Homo sapiens: one gene and its partners. The protein of the gene in region 1 interacts with the protein of each later gene in a pairwise test. Each region holds a gene or a part of one and is shown on either strand. Other genes may lie near its edges. The genes, in order: CD33, THSD7A and RPRM.

What was found.
Region 2: the proteins of CD33 (region 1) and THSD7A interact in binary tests that used the Homo sapiens proteins (3 or more experiments, as listed by UniProt).
Region 3: the proteins of CD33 (region 1) and RPRM interact in binary tests that used the Homo sapiens proteins (3 or more experiments, as listed by UniProt).

Annotation. Positions count from the first base shown.
Region 1 is NC_000019.10:51,223,061-51,226,809, forward strand, and holds the start of CD33 (myeloid cell surface antigen CD33 isoform 1 precursor), read left to right. Parts: upstream 1-2,019; 5' UTR 2,020-2,031; coding exon of another isoform or gene 2,032-2,058; coding exon 2,059-2,095; intron 2,096-2,157; coding exon 2,158-2,538; intron 2,539-2,742; coding exon 2,743-3,021; intron 3,022-3,248; coding exon 3,249-3,296; intron 3,297-3,749. UniProt on the Homo sapiens protein: Sialic-acid-binding immunoglobulin-like lectin (Siglec) that plays a role in mediating cell-cell interactions and in maintaining immune cells in a resting state.
Region 2 is NC_000007.14:11,830,532-11,834,280, reverse strand, and holds the start of THSD7A (thrombospondin type-1 domain-containing protein 7A precursor), read left to right. Parts: upstream 1-2,082; 5' UTR 2,083-2,334; coding exon 2,335-2,524; intron 2,525-3,749.
Region 3 is NC_000002.12:153,477,346-153,481,094, reverse strand, and holds the start of RPRM (protein reprimo), read left to right. Parts: upstream 1-2,332; 5' UTR 2,333-2,529; coding exon 2,530-2,859; 3' UTR 2,860-3,749. UniProt on the Homo sapiens protein: May be involved in the regulation of p53-dependent G2 arrest of the cell cycle. Seems to induce cell cycle arrest by inhibiting CDK1 activity and nuclear translocation of the CDC2 cyclin B1 complex.

The DNA of each region.
Region 1 (3,749 bases):
AAACAAAAAGTTACTCCGGCCTGGTAGTATGAGCCTGTGATCCCAGCTACTAGAGAGGATGACGTGGGAGAGTCACTTGAGTCTGGGAGGTCAAGGCTGCAGTGAACTGTGGTCAGGCCGGTGCACTCCAGCCTGGGCAACAAAGCAAGACCCTGTCTTAAAAAAAAAAGCACTAAATGTATTGAATTTTCTATTACGTGCCACATGCTAAATATTTAAATAACTTACAACAGATATTATTTACTGGAGACTTAATTTGTTGTATATCAAATGAGGATGCAGCTACCTCTCTATTAGTAAGGATGAATGAAGAGTTATCTAGATACTATTGTGTGTAGAGATTTGACAAAGGTATGGTGGCAAGTACTAATATGTCCCAGGGATCAACGGTTTGCTGGATGCATACTACACAGAGTGATATGGAAAACCATGTAGCTGGACCTAAAGTTTAATTTTCTCTGTACACTCCACTCATGTTGTCTGGAAATATTATGTCTTTGGGCCATATTTAACTGTGAGAAGCAGATTTTTACATGAAAGAAAATGTTGATCCATATGATGAGCCTCTAAAAAAACTTGCTTCTGCCCACACTGAACCAAATGGCAGCATGAATGGAAAAGAAGTTTTTTCTGCACTGGTTCATAGAACATGTGTTCTCCCTTTTGTTTCACAGGAAGATGCTGCATGGTTCTTGTTTTGGAGATGTCATTGACACTGTGCAAATCAGTGTACTAGGTGCCAGGGGAAAATTCTATAGTCATATTTCTTTTAAAATTTCCAATATGCTACCATGATACATGGCAAATTCCCAACTTTTCACAGCTCTAAAGCCAGACAGCATGTGTGTGTGTGGTGAGGACATGAGGCTATGGATGGGGAGTATCTTAAGGGCAGGAATCAGGTCAGTGGCATCTCTTCTCAAGCCCCACCTATACACAAAGGCTCACTGTAAGAATTAAAGAAAGAGGAAAGAAACACGAATGGTGGCTCACCAGTCAAGACAGATTTTAGAGAAAACAAACCTGAGAGGAGTTTCTGGCCGAGTTAAGTCAGAGGCACACTCTCTTACAGACTAAGAGTTTTTAAGGATTTAGGGTGGGAGAGTTTATCAGAGACTTGGACTGCTTCTGAGTCTCTTTGTTGTGCTTATCTGGGAGAGAGAGGTGTGTGTCTGTACCCATACATCTTTCTGCAGCTACAGGCATACCCACTGAGTCTGCTTTTAGCTTCCCTATCTTAGTGCACCTGAAGGGAAAGGAATTTGCTTATTAAGGCCCACTGTTTTACTAGGGCCATTGTATGAGGGTGAAGTTTGGCAGTAACTCAAGAGACTCTCCCCCTACCTCCCTCTGTGCCCGAGCTGTCTTATCTGTGTTTCACTGTCTGCTCTTTCTGGTTGCTTGTAGTTAGCAGAGAAGTGATTTCCTTGAAATGCATGAGGCTAGAAAGGAAATTGGAACTTAAAGAGGCAGTGTTTCTCCGAGATGACGGTGCTCCTGCTCTGTCACTCACTATATCTTTAGTGAATGAATGAATAAATGAATGGCTGCCACCTTCACTTTACCTAGGACTCTTCTTTGTTTCTCTGCCCCAGACACTCACACGGACCCTATAGAATCCTATATCCTGCTGGACTAAACACCCCATGGATCTAGGTGAGGCTGCGACTCGGGCCAGGCCAGCAGTGATCAGCCCTGGTGTAAACAGTTGTGCACAGAAAAGCACCTCAGAGTGGAAGGACTTTAGACATGGGGTTCGCATGTCTCAGATGGCCCTGAAGGTACTGATCCAGGCTCTGGTGCTCCTGGAAGGCAAGACTCAGATTCTGCTCCATCTCCTCCCATCTCTGGGCGGGTCTCTGGCATCTCTGGCCCATGAGGGTCAATCTGTGTGGAGGGGACAAGCTCTGAGCATGTGTGGGTCTGAGGTTCCTCTTCCATGCAGGGCTGAGGTCTCCTGCTCCTCCCCAGCTTCCTGTCCGGCCCTGTAGTCCTTCCCCTCCACTCCCTTCCTCTTTTCTGCTCACACAGGAAGCCCTGGAAGCTGCTTCCTCAGACATGCCGCTGCTGCTACTGCTGCCCCTGCTGTGGGCAGGTGAGTGGCTGTGGGGAGAGGGGTTGTCGGGCTGGGCCGAGCTGACCCTCGTTTCCCCACAGGGGCCCTGGCTATGGATCCAAATTTCTGGCTGCAAGTGCAGGAGTCAGTGACGGTACAGGAGGGTTTGTGCGTCCTCGTGCCCTGCACTTTCTTCCATCCCATACCCTACTACGACAAGAACTCCCCAGTTCATGGTTACTGGTTCCGGGAAGGAGCCATTATATCCAGGGACTCTCCAGTGGCCACAAACAAGCTAGATCAAGAAGTACAGGAGGAGACTCAGGGCAGATTCCGCCTCCTTGGGGATCCCAGTAGGAACAACTGCTCCCTGAGCATCGTAGACGCCAGGAGGAGGGATAATGGTTCATACTTCTTTCGGATGGAGAGAGGAAGTACCAAATACAGTTACAAATCTCCCCAGCTCTCTGTGCATGTGACAGGTGAGGCACAGGCTTCAGAAGTGGCCGCAAGGGAAGTTCATGGGTACTGCAGGGCAGGGCTGGGATGGGACCCTGGTACTGGGAGGGGTTTAGGGGTAAAGCCTGTCGTGCTTAGCGGGGGAGCTTGACCAGAGGTTGATCTTCTCTCAGGCCCTCACCTGGACCCTCCCTCCTGATTCTGCATCCCCTCTTTCTCCTCACTAGACTTGACCCACAGGCCCAAAATCCTCATCCCTGGCACTCTAGAACCCGGCCACTCCAAAAACCTGACCTGCTCTGTGTCCTGGGCCTGTGAGCAGGGAACACCCCCGATCTTCTCCTGGTTGTCAGCTGCCCCCACCTCCCTGGGCCCCAGGACTACTCACTCCTCGGTGCTCATAATCACCCCACGGCCCCAGGACCACGGCACCAACCTGACCTGTCAGGTGAAGTTCGCTGGAGCTGGTGTGACTACGGAGAGAACCATCCAGCTCAACGTCACCTGTAAGTGCTGGGCCAGGATGCTGGGGTCCCTGAGGGTGTAGGGGAGACAGGATGGGCTGGTGCTGGGGACATTTAGTGTCCTGGAGGCCTGGCTGAGTTCGGGAGCCAGAAGGACATGAGCCCTGTCCCTTCTGCATTTCTGTGGTTTCTGGCAGGAGTAAGGGGAAATGCCTACCCTTATCTCATCTCTACCCCCAACTGAAGGAAATCCTCTCTTCCTCTCCTAGATGTTCCACAGAACCCAACAACTGGTATCTTTCCAGGAGATGGCTCAGGTAGGAAGGAGCCTCCCCGCCTGGGGCTGTTACTGACATTGAGTCTGTGTCAGGTTTGGTCAGATCTGGACTTTCAGAGTCAAATGTTCAGAGGCAAGGCCTGCAGTTAGACACGGGTAGACATCAGGCACCTTGGAAAAGGATATTTGGGGATGACTAGCAACTTCCCCCTTGCCCATCCAAATAATGCTCTTTGTCTCCCTCCTGTCTCTGAATGTCTTGGGGTATTTTATTTTTAATTGATATGTAATAATAGTACATATTTATGGATGGCATAGTGATGTTTCCATACTAATAATGTATAGTAATCAGATCAGGGTAATAGCATATCCATCATCTTGAACATTTATTATTTCATTGTTGTTGGGAACATTCAATATCCCCTTTCTAGCTATTTGAAGCTATCTATTATTGTTAAGCATAGTCATCCTACAGTGGTATAGAACACCAGAA
Region 2 (3,749 bases), on another chromosome or scaffold:
CCACCATGGGTAAATATAAAGGTCAGAATCTTAAAATTTCTTTTGACAATAAGCTATTAAGTATAGTGTCGGATGGCTTTTTGAAGGGCTAGGTAAATGACCTTGCACATTAACTTAATTCCTCAGACTCTCTGTCCTCTGTTATATAATGAATTCCCACTTGGTGAATTGATTGGCGCTTCCCACGAATGCGTAGAATGGCTGCTGTTAGCAGAGTATGTCCAGTTTGAAATACTTCCTGTGCCAGAGTTAGAGGATTTCAAGGTTTAGGGCACTAACAGTAGCTGAGAAATACAAGCAGAAAGGATGGGAAAATGATTCCTTGTGGAGTGGACATGGAAATTTTCCTGAAACGACAGAACCCAGGAAGCAATAGCAGGTCCCATTTCCTTCTGTGGTGTAACTGTCAAAAGAAGTGATCCTTCAGGGAACCATACATTAGTTAAGATCAGGCTTCCTTTTTATTCCTTATCAACCTATAATCTTTTGATTGTTGCCTGTTTTTCACGAGTGAAGAAATAGTAAGCCACACTAGCTTATCTCTCCTAATCACAGACTCACAGCGCTCGGGCTCTCTGAGCTTTTAATTCCTTCTTAGAGGCCTAACAGAGCGGAAAGTAAACAAAGACCAAATTTGCAACCTTCAACGTAGCTAATTTCCTCTGATGTCAGAATACTTAAACAGGCAGGACCTGGGAATTATTTGATCAAACCCGCTTTTAATCTAATGCATGCAGAGGGGCTGTGTCTGGAAGGCTTTGCAAAATGACAAGGGTCCCAAGGGAGCCTTATGGAAGGTTTCCTCTTTCAGAAAGAGTAGCTTCCTCATCTTAAACTCTAGGGTAGCTATGTTGGAGTAAATTCATAAAAAGTAGTTTTCCTGCTTTTAAAATTTTATTTTATTTGGCTGAAAATTGCTGATGGGATAGTAGTTTTCTTTGGCTTTCCGTTTGCTGAATTTTTAATGGTTAAATGCCTACTATTTTAGCTTTACTGTGAAATGAATTAATAATAAAATATATTATTATTAGCTAAAGGGAGAAGGAGAAAGGGGAAAGCATTATCCGACTTCACACACATTCTTCTATTACTACTGGTAGAAGAAAGTGAAAACACAAAGGACAAAAGATGCAAACACATGTGGTTCCTTATTTAGATTGCGACAGGCATTTTGCTACAGTAAGAGTTAAGAAAAATCGGTGTCAGGGAAATTTTAAATGAAGAATTTACTAATTCCAAGATATCCAGACAGCATTACTGACTCAGTTTGACTCACAACTATCTGAATACTTAGAAGTAGCATATTTTTGAGGGAAAGAAGTAGATGAAGGGACAGAACTCTATACCTGAAATATAATTTTAATTTTAAGGGTTTTTTTTTTGTACAATTGTATTTATGTAATTAGGTAGCATTGCAAATACTCATTAACACTAATTCAGTTTTAAAGGCTATTAAAAGACAATTTAATTTGTCACAGAGCATCAATATTGCTCATATTTTTATTGATAATAGATTAAGTTAAAAACAACATTTAAAGAAGGGTTTAAGTGCATTTTGACAAGTCAACATTTCTGCTCTCGTGTTTTCACACCTGATCTCAAATACTGCTCCCCACACAAAGTAATTCAGAAGCCATGGCTTAAAAATAGATAATAAACACTGATGCTTTGTGTAAATACGTACTAAGAATAGCATGCCACTAGATCTAGCATTTGACTCCTTGGATGACAGTGAATATCAATGCCTGTTATTTGTCATTCTGAAATCTGCCGGGTGATGATTCTTTTTATTGGTGCATCCTTCCAAACATATTTCATCGCACCATGTGCACCGGAGTTCTTTAGGCGGGTATGTCGGAGGTGGGTGTCGCCTGGCTGGCCCCTCTCCCCTTTGCTCGCCCCCTTTCTCGCCCTCGCGCTCTCGCCTCCCTCTGCCTCCAGCCCCCTCTGCTCCTTTGGGCTCACGCCCCCCTCCTCCCCCTCCAGCTGGCGGGGGCTGCGCTGCCTCCCAGACCTAGCAGACCTGCTCAGTCAGCTGGGGCCCCCTGAGGACAGTTGCCTCCGGAGCCGCCGGGACCTGCCATTCTGCGAGGAATGGCAGCGGCAGCAGCATCCCCGCCAGAGGCGGCGGCGGCGGCGGCAGCGGCCACGGCCACCACCGCGGACGCTATTGTTCCCTGGTGTTAGACGCGCTCTCCCTCCTTCTCATCTGAAGCGAACAATAGCAGGAAAGAGCTTTGCTTTCTGTACTCTTTGAAAAGACGTTCCAAGAGCGGAGAAAAATTCCCTGCCGAGCGTGCTACGGCTCTGGACCCTGGAGTGGCTGCAGGCGGCATGGGGCTGCAAGCCAGGCGCTGGGCGTCCGGGAGCCGGGGCGCTGCGGGGCCGCGCCGGGGCGTCCTGCAGCTGCTGCCGCTGCCGCTGCCGCTGCCGCTGCTCCTGCTGCTGCTGCTACGCCCGGGCGCCGGCAGGGCTGCGGCGCAGGGCGAGGCGGAGGCGCCCACCCTCTATCTGTGGAAGACTGGTAAGTGGGACGGAGTTACCCTTTCCCCATCTTCACATCTGGGGCCACATTAAGGAGCTGGTGGGCTTCTGTAGGGACCCCGGTGCTTTTGGATGGCTTGGTTATGCTGGTATCCTAAGGTAAAAAGTATGATTTCTTAGGAAGCAAATAGGTCATGTCCGATGCAATTAGGAAAGAAAAGCATAACAACTAAGAGGCAACAGTGAGTAGCTGGAATATTTCTCTCGCAGCTCTGTAATGAGGGCAACGCGCACTTCCATGATGAAGTGCATTATTTTTAACCCCTGGATTTTCATTCTACTAGGAGTTTCTCAAACAGATTTCTAGCAAAGAACAAGCAAAGAGTTTAGTCTCAGTCTTTATTCTTTAGGCAAAGCAATATGCTCACTGTCATGACATTTGTGGATATAGAGTTGAATTTGTTAACTTTAGCTTTGTGATATGTGGGACACCTCAGAAACAAGCCAAGTGAGGGCGGTTCCAACAATTAAAGGCAAATGGGGCTCCAGTGAGCCTTCAGGGAAAGACTGAAAACTCAATTATTAACTAGCGAGTCGGAGGATTTTTAAAGTGTACAACTTTTAGGATGTCTGGGTTCAAACTTTCTCTTCCTTCCTTGAGAATTGTTTTGCTTTGTTTTTCAACCACCCAACAAAAGCAGCTACTAACTGCCCATCATTACCCATTGGCAAAATGCTTGGAGTTTCTGGCGGGGGCCGTGACAGGCAGGAAAACAATACGGAGTGAGGAATTACCAACCCCTTTTCTGCGGGTTCGCTTTCTCTCTGCATTAAAAAAACATTGAGAATTCCTTAGGGGACCTGAAACTTCACATGTTCATAGGAATAAAATGGGAAAAGATTATTCCTGTTGCTTAGAGCTAGGGGGTAATTTAAGAATAACTTGGTCATGCCAAACATTAAGAGAATGTTGTAGTTGAAAGGGAAAGTATGTATTCGTCATGGGGTTGCAAACAGGTTTCAGGGAGTGAGTGTCTTTTCCTGCTTCAGCCCATCTCTGCACCACTACTGAAGAGACAGCTCAGTCTACTCTACAATTGCATCACTATCGATATCTGGAATTTTTAAAGAAGTTGCAGCTATCCAGAAATTTAGTGAGGAGATTAAACAGAAATTTATTTAAAGTCAAAGTACACAATTTGTCTTAGAAGATTACATGAAACATATACACATTTTAAAAAGCAAGATTATTCTTGCTAACACCT
Region 3 (3,749 bases), on another chromosome or scaffold:
AACAATTTTGTGACTAATTAGTCCTTAAACCTGAGAGAAAAGATCCCACCCAAAGATTTGATTAAATATAAAAACTCTCCTGACTCCAAGGTTTGATCATTTTAACACTGACCTGACGAAAACAGCAATACTGTTCCTAGCAATAAATATACTCAAATTCTGATAATGATTCAACTAACACTTTTAGCATCCTTCCATATTGGATCTTACAAATGTACTATAAACTAACTCTTGGTTTTTGTCACATAAAGAAGGGGCTCTCCATTTGCTTACACCTAACTTCTACTGAACACACAGTTCTGTACAACTTGATCCCTGGAGGTGGGCCTCTGTTCTCTGACCTTTTATTTTTCTAAATTTCTATTACTTTTCTCTACCATTCATCTCAGGATGACTTTATATTGCCTTAAATTTGTTGTAATTTTTTCCATGTATACATTACGTTTTATTATTCTTGAGGACTACCCACATTAACTAAGATAGACTGATTGTATGATGAGATTTAAGTAAATTCTTACTTATCAATTATTAATAAATTTCTTCAAAGAAGAAATTGCCGAGAGTGAGGTATTTTTCAATTCTAATTAAATTATGGGAAACTAGAACAATAAGCCAGTGAATTGTGGTAGAAGCCCAAGCCTGAATTTTCAGCTGTTAAACATCCCCCTCAAAATAATAATAGCTATTTTAAAAAATCAAACTTATTGCAGCTGATATACCATAAATATCAAAAAATTGAAAACTCAACCAGAAGGCATTTCATTCTATTTTATGATAGTCATGAAGCAGTGCAAAAACATTTAAGGAACACTCTGAAGATGGAATAAATGATGTTTTAAGAAACAGAAATAAGAGGATTTACCAAGCAAACAGAATGAAATTAAGAGTAGAGTTGAAAATGGCAAGACAGCTACTATTTTTCAGTTTTATTTTATTTTTAATTGACAACTGTACATATTTATGAGGTACAAAGTGATATTTTGATACACATATACATGTGGAATGATCAAATCAGAGTAATTAGCGTACCCATTATCTCAAATTTTTATCAGTTCTTTGTGGTGAGAACATTTAATAGAAAGTAAATGTATTCTATTGGAAGCTCAAGTTACTGGTTTCCAGCTGTTACAGCTGAAAGAAAGAGGGAGGAAGGCAGGGAGTAATGGGGAAAAGGAGGGAGGGGAAAGAAAACAGAAAAGGGGGAGCGGGAACATGCAATATTCTTTCAGAGTTAAGAAACTTAATCTGACAGGTTTATAGAATTTCGTTGGAACCTAGAGCAAAATCACAATGGCTGAAGCGTCAATCAGGCCTATAAAAACATCTGTGTTTAGTTTAAATGACTAAGGGTGAAATACATCAGCTTATGGAAAATGGGGAGGGCTCCCAGTATTTGGCCAGCGTTCTAGGTGATGGATGTTGATGAGCAATTCCCTTCAACAACTGATTTACTGCCAACGGACAAAATGCTGGAAGCACATCCAAAAACTTATCTGCAATTAAAATTACAAGCAAGTGGTCACTCTGTTCACCTCCTTTACCAGAGAGGTGACCCTGCTCCCGGCAACTACCTCCACCCAAGGGCCACAGAAGAACTCCTCCTTCCTCTAACCCTCTTTCCTTGGCCTCAAACCTCACGGTAAAACCTGCCTTGCTCTGTCTCCCAATCGCTTTTGTAAAGGAAGCTGGGTGTAGAGCTCTTCTTTCTCCCTCCCTTCCTTTTTTCTTTCCTTCCTTCCTTTCTTCCTTCCTTCTTCCATGCCTTTCTGTCTTTCCAAATTCATTGCTTTGTAAGAAACATTCTCAGATCACCTCCACTCCACTAGAAATCCAACGCAGGCGAGTCGGAGTCAAGCACAGGCAGTGGGCGGGTGGCCTCAGCCGGCACCATCTGGCACCTGCGATTCATCGCCACTTTCCATTCGCCCAGAGGTCAGGGGGGCAGCAGGCAAAGGACACGCAGAGCTCGTGTGTCCCAGTTCCTCTGAAACTTTCAGCTGACCGCACCCTCCCCCGACAAACTCTTTAATCATCCATCAAGCTAGAAGAGTACAGTGACCTCTGCCTGGCCTTTGGAGTTTGCAAAAGAAGCAAGCAATAAAAAGCAAGACCAGGTTCGCCCCTTTGCTTCCTCCACCTCCCAAGAGCAGCGCGCAGCGCGGCGGTGCGGCCGGAAGGGGCCGCTGTTTGCTCAGCGCAGCCACCCCGCCGCTGCAGCCGCCGCGGCCCGCACCTCCCACGGCCGGGCTGGTCCAGCCCCGCCAAGTTCCAACAGCCCCCCCTCGAGCGAGCGCCGGGAACGAGCACCACCAGGGCTGGAGCGGACGGCTTTAGAAGAGCCTAGCTGCTGCGCGCGTCGGAGAGGCTCCTGGGAAACTCCCACGGCCCAGGGACTTTCGAAAGCAGAGCGAGGAGCCCTCGCACGCGCTAGTCTGCGAGTGAGCGCTCAGCCCGGCACCTGTTCCTCCAGCGCCGCCGCCTTCCCACCCCTCGGACCCGCGCCGCTCGCGGCGCCCGCCCGTTCCTGCGATGAATCCGGCCCTAGGCAACCAGACGGACGTGGCGGGCCTGTTCCTGGCCAACAGCAGCGAGGCGCTGGAGCGAGCCGTGCGCTGCTGCACCCAGGCGTCCGTGGTGACCGACGACGGCTTCGCGGAGGGAGGCCCGGACGAGCGTAGCCTGTACATAATGCGCGTGGTGCAGATCGCGGTCATGTGCGTGCTCTCACTCACCGTGGTCTTCGGCATCTTCTTCCTCGGCTGCAATCTGCTCATCAAGTCCGAGGGCATGATCAACTTCCTCGTGAAGGACCGGAGGCCGTCTAAGGAGGTGGAGGCGGTGGTCGTGGGGCCCTACTGACCCGCCCTCTGCCCCCGCGGCAACCGCTCCCACGCCTGCCCACTTTGCTAGCCCGGCTGTGCCCCTCACTATCAGAGACTGGGCGAAGCAAACCTGTCGGAGTCAATTATTTCTCTCGACTTCGGCCTTTCGGAAAGAAGCGACCGGTTTCTCCCTCGCCCTCTGAAAGTCCTCATGCCTGGCAGTCGGAGGAGAGCGCCCAGACTCTGAACTCAGCAGAAAGTGGCAAGAAGAGGGCGATTAGGGCGCAGAACTTTGGAAGCTGCTACTTACTTGGAATGCGGGGAGACCGACGGTGCGAAGGCCCTTCTCCACCCGCAGGTGGGCCAAGCTCTGGGGGCAGGTGGAGAGGGCGGGCAGGGGAGAGACCCAGCGGCACTGATCGCCTTGTGACCGGAAGAGTGACCTGTTAAAAGCCACGCAGCAGACTCATGGGGTCTCACAAATCCGTGTCCGGGTGCGCTCCCACTCTTCTCCTGCTCCCCCCCTGCCCTGGAGGGGAGGGGCGATAAATACCTTTGATTGTAACGTGCCGTTTTAAGAGGTTTTGTGTTTGTTTGCTTGAATACAAATGTTTGATAAGTCTTTTTCTGCCCCAGTGGCCTGTTTGCCTGCCTGAGGAGTTACAGTTTTGTCATTGTGGGAGAAGGGGTGGGGGGAGGGGGAGCCTGCGAATTTGAACGGGGTGAGTTGTTTCTTTTAGTGCATTTCCCACTGGGTCTTTTGGGAGGCGTCTAGCGTTCCTGCTGGCCCTGGGACAAAGACCCAGAATAGAACTCGTAGCTCGTGACTGCACGGTTTACGCCACAAAAGTGCTCTTGACATCCGTGACACCGTTTTGACTTTTTGTTTTTTTCTTATTTAACATTTCCTTAATAAATGCAACATTT